3 separate regions of the Homo sapiens genome follow, and regions 1 and 2 are each reported to be linked to region 3. The links are microRNA targets in miRTarBase. Many come from high-throughput screens and were not tested one by one. Region 3 holds a microRNA gene; each other region holds the end of a gene's coding sequence.
Evidence for each region. Region 3 holds the annotated microRNA hsa-miR-4796-3p (UAAAGUGGCAGAGUAUAGACAC, at 2,651-2,672, shown strand). A microRNA usually pairs through its seed, bases 2 to 8, with sites in the 3' UTR of a target mRNA and lowers its output. Matches are read on the target gene's strand: a 7mer-m8 pairs with bases 2 to 8, a 7mer-A1 pairs with bases 2 to 7 and ends in A, and an 8mer does both.

Region 1: the mRNA of KLHL36 is a reported target of hsa-miR-4796-3p. The part of its 3' UTR that is shown has no 7-base or 8-base seed match.
Region 2: miRTarBase lists SNAPIN as a target of hsa-miR-4796-3p. Seed matches in the 3' UTR shown: 7mer-m8 at 692-698.

What each region holds. Positions count from the first base shown.
Region 1 is chr16:84,661,400-84,665,399 of GRCh38, reverse strand. KLHL36 (kelch like family member 36) reads right to left here. Exons shown (of 5, transcript NM_024731.4): 5 at 1-3,822. The coding sequence ends at 3,267. Among named protein-coding and RNA genes, the nearest start is that of KLHL36, 15 kb to the right of the region's middle. RefSeq lists a silencer at 1,436-1,485 and an enhancer at 1,576-1,795.
Region 2 is chr1:153,661,063-153,665,341 of GRCh38, forward strand. It overlaps SNAPIN (SNAP associated protein), which reads left to right. Exons shown (of 4, transcript NM_012437.6): 4 at 138-790. The coding sequence ends at 239. It overlaps ILF2 (interleukin enhancer binding factor 2), which reads right to left. Exons shown (of 14, transcript NM_004515.4): 8 at 4,158-4,274; 9 at 3,334-3,412; 10 at 2,981-3,068; 11 at 2,153-2,214; 12 at 1,957-2,071; 13 at 1,643-1,733; 14 at 726-1,494. The coding sequence ends at 1,334. Among named protein-coding and RNA genes, the nearest start is that of SNAPIN, 4.5 kb to the left of the region's middle.
Region 3 is chr3:114,741,786-114,746,123 of GRCh38, reverse strand. It overlaps MIR4796 (microRNA 4796), which reads left to right and starts at 2,599; the gene lies at 2,599-2,679. The region is part of intron 5 of ZBTB20 (zinc finger and BTB domain containing 20); the gene reads left to right.

The DNA of each region.
Region 1 (4,000 bases), not on the chromosome of region 3:
CTTAAGCAAACAGCTTTCCAACTTGGGTGAGGACCAAACCCCAAACTTACAACTAATATGAAGTTACAACTCTAATTCTTTAGAAATGAGAGAAGTCCAAACCTCAATAGAAGCCTGCCATGCTTATTTTGAAATGTTAAAAAAAAAAAAAGATCCAGGTGTCTTCAAAATTCAAGCAGAATAGCTTGAAACACTGAAAGTTTAACATGATGACATGTGTGGCTGTTTCCCTCTCAAAATGGCAGCCTGCAAGCACCTGTGCCTTCATCACTCTAGTTTAAAACCCCACATTCGTGACTGTGCGGTTCAAATGGCCACTGCATAAGCACAGCCCAAACTCTGCCCATCTGAGTTAAAAAACATTTTATTCTTTTGAGACAGGGTCTCACTCCGTCACCCAGGTTAGAGTGCAGTGGTGTGGTCATAGCTCACTGCAGCCTCAACCTCCCAGGCTCAGGTGATTCTCCCACCTCAGCCTCCTAAGCAGCTGGGACTACTGCATGCCCCACCATCCCTGGCTAATCTTTTGTAATTTTTTTGTAGAGATGGGGTTTTGCCATGTTGCCCAGGCATGGTCTCTTCCATTTTCAGTTCCATTTTCATGCACAGTAGGGTGAATTTTCAACTTAAAAAGACAAGTAACAAAAACCTGGCCCGGGCACCACCACTGGGTGCCCTTGTGCCCATCCACTGACCCCAACAAGCTCAAAAACCTTTCTTGTCACAGTGTAGCCACCATCAAATATTAGAAGTTGACCCACAAGATGAAACTTGTTTATCCTCCCTTTAAAAGGGTGGTCCCAACCTTAGTAATATTAGGGTCAAAGCCATGTCAATTACAAACCACCTTCATAGTATCAGGAGAGACACCACAAAATATGAAGCGCAGGACGTCGTATGTAACTCATGAGGCACAAGAAAATCAGAATAGAGGCCAGAAGCTCACACATTTCCAGGGACAAGTCCCAGAAGCAAAACATAAAAGAGCTGGCTTAGGCTGAAAACCAATGGCTCTCCTCTCTCCAAGGTCAAAGCTATCCCACTCCCCAAATCACTCACAGAGTCTTTCTATGTGCTCTCCCCAACTTGCCCCGAGATTCAGGCCAAACAACTGCCCGTTTGTTCATGACCCAGGCTGAGATGGGGAGAACAGCCCACGTACACCCTACCCTGCCTTCTGAGGGGTCTACAAGCAATAAAACCTTTCCCGAATAGGAAGGGGGTAAGCTATCCCAAAGTTGGCAGAAGTTCTGCAAAACATGTTTTGTGGGGGTCTGGGACTAGGTATGAGACAAACGACTTTTAGGCTCAAAGAAGTTTGGAAATGCTGGGTTGAGACTTCTCGGAACCTTTCATACACCGGAATGCTGCAGAGCTCCAAGCAGAGTTTCCAGCCTTTTGGTCTGTTTGTTTGTATGCCTCGCAGAACCTCTCAACAGTTTGTAAGCCTCCAGGGACTTCACATGCAAATAACTAGCTAGCTGAACATGCAGACTGCCCTCCTCACTAACCACAGAGGGCAGTAAGTTGGCTATTGAAGCTTTCAGTCCCCAAAATGCTCTCATCTCTTCTGGATGGCTACATAAACAGACCAGTGAGAACCACAGTAAACCCTGAAGGGAAGGGAAAGGAGGGGCAGCAAAGAAGCAGAAGAAATGGAAATTAAAGTTAACTAAGATTTTTTTCCTAGTCTAATATCAATCTTAACACATTGATCCTCATCCACTCGAGCAGCTGAGAGCCCTCTTAAAGGGCAAGTGACATCGAGACCTGCTCTCGGAACTGTCTGCAGGAAGACTGGTGTTAGACTAGGATTGAAGATGAAGCACATCTTGAAGTTTACTGATCTCTGCCATCGGATGCTGGGTGAGGTACAGCTCATTCATGCCTTCCTTGGCTCATGCTTAAAACCCATCACACTCCTATCCTCCCATAGTTCTGCACGTTTCTCATCCACTCGGGCAGCTAAGAGCCCTCTTAAAGGGCAAGCGACCCTGACACCTGCTTTAGGAACTGTTTGCAGGAGTCAGTGCAGGCCAGCTCCACATCCTGAAGGGGATGCCATCCGGGTACGAACAGCTCAGAGGCTGAATGGCCCTATCACCCGGGAGGAGCCTGGAGGGTATTCCATCTAATCCTGTGGCTAAGCGGGGTGGATGAGGGAACACACGGACTTGTTCGAGAATTTGCCCAGCAGCACGAAACTACTTAGAAGCAGAAAACTGGGGCAGGACCTGGCGTGGGAGTTAGGGAGCCCTCCACTGCCTTCTCAGGGATCCACATGTGCTCCTCTGTGCAGGAACTTTCAACAGCGCCTCAAGATAGAGTCACAGAGAACGATGGCAAATTCCATAGCACTCACTTTTTCTTTCCTGAGAAATAAACAGATTTGGGAGCTCAGTACATCAGTAATATAAAAGACAGTGGGTTCAGAAAAAAAAAAAAGGAAAAAAATGCACAAATTACAAAAAAATATGTATAAAGAGCTTCATACCTTTTTTCGTTTTTGGTTACCTGTAACGTTTTAGAATTCAAGAAGGTTTCCAATGAGGAAAGACGGAATTATTCAGAAACAGCGTTCACCTGATACGGAGAACAGCTCCCCAGCGGGAAGTCATCATGTCTCATCTGACAGTCTAGCGAGCTGCGTGGCCCCTGGTCACTCACTCACTCACCCTCATGGGTGGTCTCTGTGCACTCATTTATAAAACAAACACACTGGACCTTGCCAGTGATTCCCAGATGTGACTAATACCCAGAATTCCAAGAACTAGTTAAAATACAGCTTCTGGGCACCACCTCCTCCCCGTTCCTGGTGGTTTTGGATTCCATAATTCTGAGCGGGGCTCACGCATCTGTATTCTTAAAAGTTCAGCCAGGTTTGGGGAGGCTTGGACTAGGTGGCCTAAGAGAACCCTTTGAGGCCCAAGCTTCACTACAGAAATTTCTGTGTTACCCACGTGCCAGCTACTCTCAGGGGGACAGTCAGCAAGGACCCATGAGGAATCATAACACGGGGCAAAGACCTGTGAAGATACAAGGGGTTGCTCACTGCCTGGGCCCAGGGTTAGTTATTCAAGCAAGATATGTAAAGTTACAGATAGTATTTAATTGGTTACTGTGATATCATAGAAATACCAAGAATCATAAAAGTAAAAAAAGCTGCTAAGTTGTACATAATGTTTCCGGAATACTAAGAAGTTGCTGCTGGTCTACAGAGCCCTGGGAGGTGACGGTGAGGATGGTCCCAAGAGGCGCAGCTAGGGTCACTGGCCCCGGTCCTGGTGCCTCTTGCCTTTGCCTTTCTTCTTCTTGTCCTCTGGCCGTGGCTCCAGGGCGCAGACACAGGCGGACCCGCCAGCGATGGCCTTGGGCAGGTCGACGCCCCTGCTCCACTTGTCGGCCTCGCGGTCGTACACCTGCACGGTCTTGGAGAAGGCAGTGTTCTCCCAGCTGTAGCCGCCCAGGATGTAGATGCGGCCCTCCCACACTGCCACGCCCGACTCGCTGTTGGCGTGCAGCAGCGGCGCCACGCGGGTCCACTGGTTGCACTGCGGGCTGTAGGCCTCCACGCCCAGCACGTCGAAGCGCTCCATGGACTCGATGTTGTCATCGCTGCCCCCGATGGAGTAGATGCTGTCACCCAGGCTGCACATGCTGTGCCAGCCGCGCGCCGTGGTCATGGGCCGCCGCTCCTCCCACACGTCTGTCCGGTGGTCGTAGCATAGCAGGTTCTTGCGGTAGGGGCCAATTTGGTAGTCGTGGCCCCCCGAGATGTACACGAAGTCTTTGTAGATGGTGCCCGCGTGGCCGTACGTGAACCTGCAGGGTCGACGGGCAGAGACAGAGGGAGAGCTCAGGGCTGTGCCAGGCTTACCCCCTCCGAGCCGGGGAACAGCCTGCCGTCTTAGAGGGCCATGAGGATTTAAGAATATAGGGAGTGGGCACCCCATGAACACTCTATAGACAGTAGCCGTCATTAGCAAAGAAATGGCAGGGC
Region 2 (4,279 bases), not on the chromosome of region 3:
CCCGGCCTACATTCTTATATATACTTTTGAAGACTGACTTTGAGGTAGATCACGCCCGGTATTTTTCAGCACCTAGTTCACTTACACTCTCAAGCCTTTCACAGTGGTTAAGATTCCAAACCTTCCTTGTCTTGTAGGAACGACTGAGACGGCTAAACCACAGTGTTGCCAAGGAAACAGCCCGCAGGAGAGCAATGCTGGATTCGGGAATTTACCCCCCTGGCTCCCCAGGCAAATAACAGATGAGCCTATGGACTCAGTAGCACAAGTACTGTTCCCCAGCTGCCTTGTTTCAACAGACATGCAAAGATCCTAGGAGACAGTCCCCATAGACCTTCAGACATTAAAAAGGGAGCCGTACAGTTTGTTTGAAGCACTTCGTCTTACCCATTTATGTAGGGGCCCCAGGAAACCTACACACAGCCAGAATGAGGTTCCCAAAGGACTTACATTAATTATGGCTCTTGCTTCCTTTCACAAATGAGCTGAGGCCTCTACTTTTTTTTTTAAGCTGCATACGTGAGGCTTACCTTCTTCAGGACTAGTTAACCAGAGGGGCTTCCTTTGTATGTTACATGCCTGGTTACATGGGCCTGGACAGCATGTCCTCTACCTGTGACTTCTCATTTTCCTGTTTACACTGGGGATTTGGAGGGGGCAGGCAAAGTCAAAGTGAATGACCTCTGTCCACCCACTTTTTTATTGCACTGGCTTGAATACAGTAGCAGTGTTGATAGAATCATTTTATTCAATAAATACTTAAAATGATATTCTAGTTTACTCTGGTATATGGAAAGGTTCCAGGAGTTTGTCCTTTAATTCAAAGACAGCTTCAAATTGTGATCTGAGTATTTATAATTAAATGACTCAATTATCATTTTCAACAAAAGAGTACACAAAGCCAAAAGCAAAAAAGGTTGCCACATGCAAAAAAACAAACAAACAAAAAACACCAACCAGAAAGACCAAGAGCCCTACTAGGAAGTACTTTAATAGTTTTTCTTAGAAAAAAAAATTTCCAGACACTTAACATTTCACAACATTTCAACAGCAAAGTATTAGTTGAGAGAGGGGTTTTCAGGAGTTGGAGATTATAGAATATTAGGAAGAAATGTTGGTATCCTCCATTATAGATGGATGGCATAGGTCACAAATGGGAGACTGGCAGCTAAGCCAATATCAAAACCCAGTGGAATGACACTTCTATGGAGTTTACTTTTCTTCCTGCTATCTTCCCTATCCCACGGAAATGTCTGTCACCATGTAAAGCCCAGTAGCAGGCAGCTTAGGCTCCAGTCTTCCCCCTTGGGTAGGAAAAGGAGTGAAGGGAATGTCACTCCTGAGTTTCCATGCTTTCTTCTTCCTCTCCTTGAGGTGGTTCTTCTGTATTCTCCTCTTCTTCCTCTCCTTCCTTCTTCTCTGGTGGCTTCTCATAAGCCTTTTCTGAAGGTGTTACTATCACTCCATCCCAGGTAGATATTTCAGAAGCAAGATCTAGGAAAGAGAAAAAGGTGATTTAGACGAGTAGCCCAGCATAAAAGTCATTACTTACACTGTGGAAATATTAAAGACATTTAAGTAGTGTACAGCTTCTCTGTACCAGATTACAATACAAAACCCCTGACCCACAGTGGTCACTCACAGCTGGCATCACCCTCCTGGCCAAGGATCTTCCTAAAGCCACCATGTGAGAGGATTCGGACGAGAGTCTGAGCTGTATAGCAGACCATGTCCTGAAGGAAAGCAAAGTGAGAGTAAGCAAGGAAAATCAAAGGACCTTATTTGAGTAATACCCTTCTGAAAACAGAGATTAAGACAGCTTTTTAAATCTCAGGACCAAAGTCTTTCAGAATCCCCAAATTCCTGACCCGTAAAGACCATATTCCGCTTTGCCTGCTGAGCAGCAGTATTCAAAAGAGTGGGGCAAAACAACTCAGTTCATATCTGTCCCAATACCTGCTGTTCTAGGGTCATGACTGTGTGTACTCTAAAGTTGCCACTCTCACAGGGGTCAGTGATACCCACTGAACCTGGCAGGAACAGTCCTGCAGCCAGAATCTGCAAGCAGCGCCTAGAACACAGGGAGGTATGAGGTATTAAAGGAATGCACAAAATAGTTTACAACCAACCCTAAACCCAAAGCATGCTGTACCTGTATGCAACGTTTAGGGCCAAAGGCTGTCTGGTGGGGTTGTTCATCACAGCATAATGGCCCTGAAAAATAATAAATCCAGTAGGTGTGCCATCAAAATGGCACTTCTGATAACTAGAACTTTATTTTTTAGAGACAGGGCCTCACTTTGTCATCCAGGCTGGAGTGCAGTGGCGCAATCATAGTTCACTGTAACCGCGAACTCCTGGGCTCAAGCAACCCTCCTGACTCAGCCTCCTGAGAAGCTAGGACTATAAGTTCAAGCCACTACAACTGGCTAATTTTTTTTTTTTTCTCTTGTAGAGACAGAGTCTCGCTATTTTGCCCAGGCTGGTCTCAAACTCCTGGCTTCAAGTGATCCTCTGGCCTCAGCCTCCCAAAGTGCTGGGATTACAGGCATCAAACTAAAACCTTAAATGATCACGAGGAAAACTGGTCATTAAGGTCTAAGTCTAGCCAAAATTTTCATGTTCAGAAGCAATTCTGAAATGGCTGCTCACTCATTTCTCTCTACTACCATGATTAAATGGTAGCAGTCATGAGAAGAAAACGGGACACTATAACTCAGTAACTACTCATTTCATTGAATATACAAAAAAAAAAAAAAACTTTGAATTTTTTCTTTTTTTTTAAACAAATGTCTCTGAGTCATGTAAATGTTGAATTTTTATTGGATTACTTGTCTACCAATAAAATTTCTTTTAAGCTTCACCAAATTTCAGACTCTGGTGAATTTCAGAGTTACTACTACTACTACTACTACTACTACTACTACTACTACTAGTAAATAAGGATGATGAGGAACTCCAATTGCCCATCTTTACTTACTAGTAGGTCAAGGATCCAGGGTGTGAGGGGCTCAAAGCCAGGAAAACGAATCCTCAAGTCCTTCAGTAGTCTGATGAGAACTTTAACTCTGAAAGTAATAGTGACCCAAACATTAAAATCAATACGATCATGTATTTCCATGCCTAAGGTAGAATTGAAGCTGACTATGCTATTTCCAGAACTATACATTCTCTGCTTTCTCTAAATCTTAATTTGCTTCCTTAAGGTAAAAATAAAAATCCAGACACGAGGTCACAGGCAAAATAGTTCTGTCAGAGGAAGTATGGGGGTATCCTGCTATTCACTGCAGTTAAAAAGTTTATCTTAATCCAAATGGTTAGAGAGGGACTCACGTGGACTGAGAAGCATTTTCCTCGAACCAGCGGGCATGTCGGATGGCTGCTAAGGCACTCTGCAATACTTTGATATCCACTAAAAAGACAAGCATGATATGCCAGGATGAAACATTTTCATTAAACAAGCTACTCATTACCACTGCTACAGTCTTAAAAACTTGGAAGGAGGGCAGGATAGACGGAGTCTCGCTCTGTTGTCCAGGCTGGATTGCGTACAGTGGCGTGATCTCAGCTCACTGCAACCTCCGCCTCCCGGGTTCGAGCAATTCTCCTGCCTCAGCCTCCTGAGTAGCTGGGATTACAGGTAACCGCCATCATGCCCCACTAATTTTTTATTTTAGTAGAGACGGGGTTTCATCATGTTGGCCAGGATGGTCTCCAACTCCTGACCTCAGGTGATCTGCCTGCCTCAGCCTCCCAAAGTGCTGGGATTACAGGCGTGAGCCACCGCACCCGACCAACTCTGCAATTCTTTAAGCCACCCTGTGTTTCTCATATCAGCAAATCACTTGTCTAAAAATCACTAGAAACATGCAAGATCTGTTTTCTTCAAAAGCCTATCCCCCTCCATAAATATTTTCTCAGTCCTTTTTAAGTCCTCCAAATGCTTTCTTGGTCACCCCATCTGAAAATTCCACTAGCAAGCTGATAAACTATTTCCAAATTACAGAGGGAGAGAGCAAAGTTCAGAATAAACCTAAGTTCTTCAATTCCCAGGAAGCTGCATGTGGAATAGCAACAAGCTAAGTAAACTAAACAGCAACAATACCATGTTTTGAATATCCCCTAAATTTTCCAGCAATGGAAAAAAAAGAACTAACAATGGAGTTCTGGATCCAGTTTTCGAAGATTGGGTGGCACTGTTGTAATGAGAATCTTCACTGTAGCATCAGAAGAACTGATTTCAAAGCCAGTTTCGTTGGTCAGCATGGTTAAAACTGAA
Region 3 (4,338 bases):
GGCAATCTGATCAGCATGTCCTTGTTTCTAGAATTGAGTAAACCAAATCAGGATGAACCGCACATGGTTTAATAGTTAACTTTTAGAACAAGGGGCAGGGAGATGCTTTTACGCCATAGGCCCAGTGTTCATTCCAATCTCATTACTAAAGTCTGTTCTGAGAGCATTTACAGCTTTCCGGAGAGTCTGAGTTTGGCTGAATCCTGAAGATGGAAATGTAGCTTAATGACCTCCTTGTCCTGGAGTCTCCCTTAATACAGGTGAATTTTTGTGATAAATCATTCTCTAGAATCCAAAGTATTGATTGATATCATCATTATTACTATTATTATTATGATTAGCCCTTTCTTATGTGGTTAGTTCTCTCTCCATTTTCCTATTCTAGGAATAAGTGTAAGTTTTGTGAATATGCATTTGCTCTCTCTGAGTTTCTTTGAAACAGTTTATGTCTTCTTTCAAGTTGGAAGTGTGAGATATTTTGAATTATAGTTGGATGTGCAAGTCCAGTCCTGCTTTTTAGAGATCAGGAACAGAAAAGGTTCTACAAACAATCCTTTATTTGACTAAGAGACAGAACAAAGGAAGGGAGATAATTGTATCTTTGGGTGATTCAGTCTTCGGTGCTTAGTATTGATTGACTAGTGGTCTCTTTATCCTGGCCTCTGCTTTCTCAGATTCCTAAACAGACTCTTCCCTTATGTGTAAGAGGAACTCCCTCTTAGCATCTTCTCAGTCTCTTCCAAAGGAGAGTAACCATGGACGAGGATTTAGCATATCTAATGAATGGGCATTGGGTTATCAATAAGTATTAAGGGAAAATAACAACAAGAAAATTGAGGGCAGATTCATGGTAAGCATTGTTTGTGGAACTGTTGGACGGGTCTGGTGTGTAGTTGATGTTGTTGTTCTAAACTGAGCAGCAACAGTAACAACAAACAACGAAATCCTACTTCCCACTCTCTTCTTCCTTTCTATTCAAAAACAACCATCACTATCACAATAGCCCAGTAGACAAAATAAAAGCATGTCTATATTTTTGGTATATTACTGTATGTCTTAACTGTAGTTTCTCTGCCACACATTAACAGAGTTATTTATCCCTGATGTTTTTCAAAGATCACCTTTGTGCTTGTCTGCATAGCTGTTCTAATAGTGTTACTATTGTCTCTTCTTCATTATCTCCTTTTATTTGAGTTCTTTTTTTTCACGTATGCAAAGAGGCTCTTTTTCTAGGCTCTTTGCACACATTCACCATTGCACTAGGACAGATGGGTGTTTTTCTATATAATGCCTTTTAAAGTGAGAAGACAGCAAGAATAGATTTTGAACAATATTTTACCAGCATTATTGAAAAATTAGCTACTGTATATTCTATATACACACACAGCAGCTGCATAAAATGCAAATTCTATTCATGTCTGATCTCTTCTGCATTTATATGGTGACTATCGCTGTAGCACCTAAGCACTTTATGTTATTTCCTCTTATTATTATTTACCACCTGATCATTCCAGAGTGCTTTTTACAATCAGAGAATTTCATTAACAACCCATTCCCTCGCTCTTTGTTTTTCAGCACCCTTGCATGTAAAAGTATCAAGCATCTTGGTAGCTATATCAGATAAATTACAGTAAAAAGATAGAGGGCTTCCGACAGGAGGGCAGGGGAAAAAACACCCTAAAGCATCTCCTAAAATTTGGTTTGTGTTTTATGGTATCCAAATAATGTTACAGAAGTCTGTAATTTTAGTGAAAACCAAACCACTAGATAAGCGCTTTTATTTATCATGGTTTCCACCATTGCAATAATCGAAAGTGTGAGGTGAGGAAGAGGAATACTGTCTGCACTTCATAGATAGAGAGGACTGGGCAATTGCACTTTCTTCTCACTGTGGAAAGCTTGTGATTCTTATTGACTCTTGAGCTGCCTTTAGCCCAGAAGTATAGAAGTCAATCTGTTTTAAAATCCAAAAAGCTACTGTTATATTTTTTAAGCTAAGAGGATAGAAACATGTTTATTAAAAGGTTCATTGTGATTATAGATGAAAGTGCGTGGTTGGTACCTTAACAGTTTGATTGAATAAAAATCAAGTTCACACTGGGGTTTCCTTCTCAGCTCTACTCCTTGCTTTCTCTTTGACTCCAAGCTAATTGCATAACCTCTGGTTGACTTGTGCCTCGTCTACACATTCAAAGTGAAATTCAGAAATGAGGTTATTATCTAACTAATGTAGGCTGTAACATTATTTCTCTAAAATATCTCTGTGAGAGAATTTTGAAATTTCTGATTTCAGTAGATAGTAAAAAAAATAACAATTTTATGGACCATCTCCTTTTATTCTTAGACAACAACCCCATGGAGGTGGATACATCAGAGTCAGCTGGAGGTGGTCAGAATTATTTGCAATGTTTGGTAAGACACAGATTACTGCCCCTTCACCAAGTTTCTGATTCAGAGTCTAGGGTAGGGACTGATAATTTCACTTCTGATATGTTTCCACATGATGCTGATGGGGACCACATTTTTTGGATCACTGCCCTAAGGATGATATGGCTTAAGTACATATAGAAAAGGAAATCAAGGCTCAAGTCATGGCAGTAAATTTGTGTCTATACTCTGTCACTTTACTTTTGGCCTCAAGTCATTGCAGTAAAGTGGCAGAGTATAGACACAAATTTAGGCCTTCTTCCTACTACAGACATTTTCTTTTCACTTCTACTAGAGATATTTTCACTTTACTTTTATGTTTTGAATGACTGTCAGTCGTCTTGAGATCCTAAGTGAAAAAGCATTGTAAAGAGTGGTAATTGGATCTTTTCCCCTTAGATCCAGTGGCTACCCTATTGCATTTGTGAAAGGAGAGGAGGAAGCCATTCCAAATTTTAGTGATTAGCTTTGGTATGAACAGCTTTTAAGGCCAGCTTTATACTTCCCTTTGGGGATGAGAGTAATAAACATAGTCTTCTTTGTATTCATTCATCATAGCCTGTACATAGATATGAACAGGTTTCTCTTTGATGGACTTATGACCATGTTCTGCTGTGACAATGCTTTGTAAAAAAATTGTCACTTGTATATTACTTCTCCAAAAATCATAATAAAAAAAAGATGTCAAAGTGAACATGATGGGGCAAGGGAAAAACCACTGCAGACAGACTGAGGACACTTGAGTCTTGTACTACCTCACATATTGGCACAGATATACTGACCTCCATGGGAGACACCCAACAATTCTTCTTTACCCAAGCTATATGTTACAGTCACCCAGAAAGGCTTTGAAACAAACACCCACATCAGGGCCCAGGTACAAGAAATTCTGATTTAATTGTTCTGGGGTAGGGTCTGAGTATCAGTAGGTTTTAAAAGCTTGCCAGGTGCTTCTAATGTGCAATCAGGGTTAAAAAACCACTGGCCTAGTGTTTAAGGGCCTGGGTTTTGAAATCAGACAGATCTGAGTTCATATCTTGGCTCTTTCACTTAGTTACTATGCAACCTTGGACAAGTTATTTAATCTCTGTCAGCTTTAGTTTTCTCGTATGTAAAATGAAAATAATAGCACTTGTCTTGTAGGAGATCTATGAAAATTAAATTAAATGATACATTTAAATGTTTGACATCGTACCTGGCTTGTGGTATGGATCTACTACACATCAGCTGCTGTTGCTATTATAATGCACCTCAGTTTCCTTATCTGTAAAGCAAAAGAGGGGGCACTTTAATTTATGAAATGGAGGACAAATATCTCAGGATTTCGTATAGATACTTGTCTGTCACCATATCCACAGTATCCTACCCGGCTTCATTTTTGCCGTTCTTACTTCCTACACATATTTATTATTGTTAGGTACAATCATTGACAGGCTCAACCTTTATTATGATATTTTACCAATAAATACTTCTCTGCCCTCCCCCTTCCCACCAAGATTAAAAACTTGAAACATACAACAAATCCACTTGTCATATGGGGTAATGTAGGTATGATGGGTGGTTGACCTATGGGTTTAAGAAATAAAAGGCAGAGTTTTGTAAACATGTCTAAAAACTAACATGCCCCTATTCTTGATTGCTATTTTTTTCTGCCATCACTCACTCTAAGAGTTCAGTTGTTGGTAGCTTTCATCCTAGAAAAGGAAAATTGTTCATACTCTACTTCTTAAAGATTATTGCAATTTGTTAATTCCCTTCATTTTCCCATTTTCCCTGATTTCCTTCTGTATGTCTTTTTTTCTTTTCTTTTTTTTTTTTTTTACAGTCTTGCTCTGTCACCCAGGCTGGAGTGCAGTGGGGCAATCTTGGCTTGCTGCAACCTCCGCCTCCAAGGTTCAAGCAGTTCTCTGC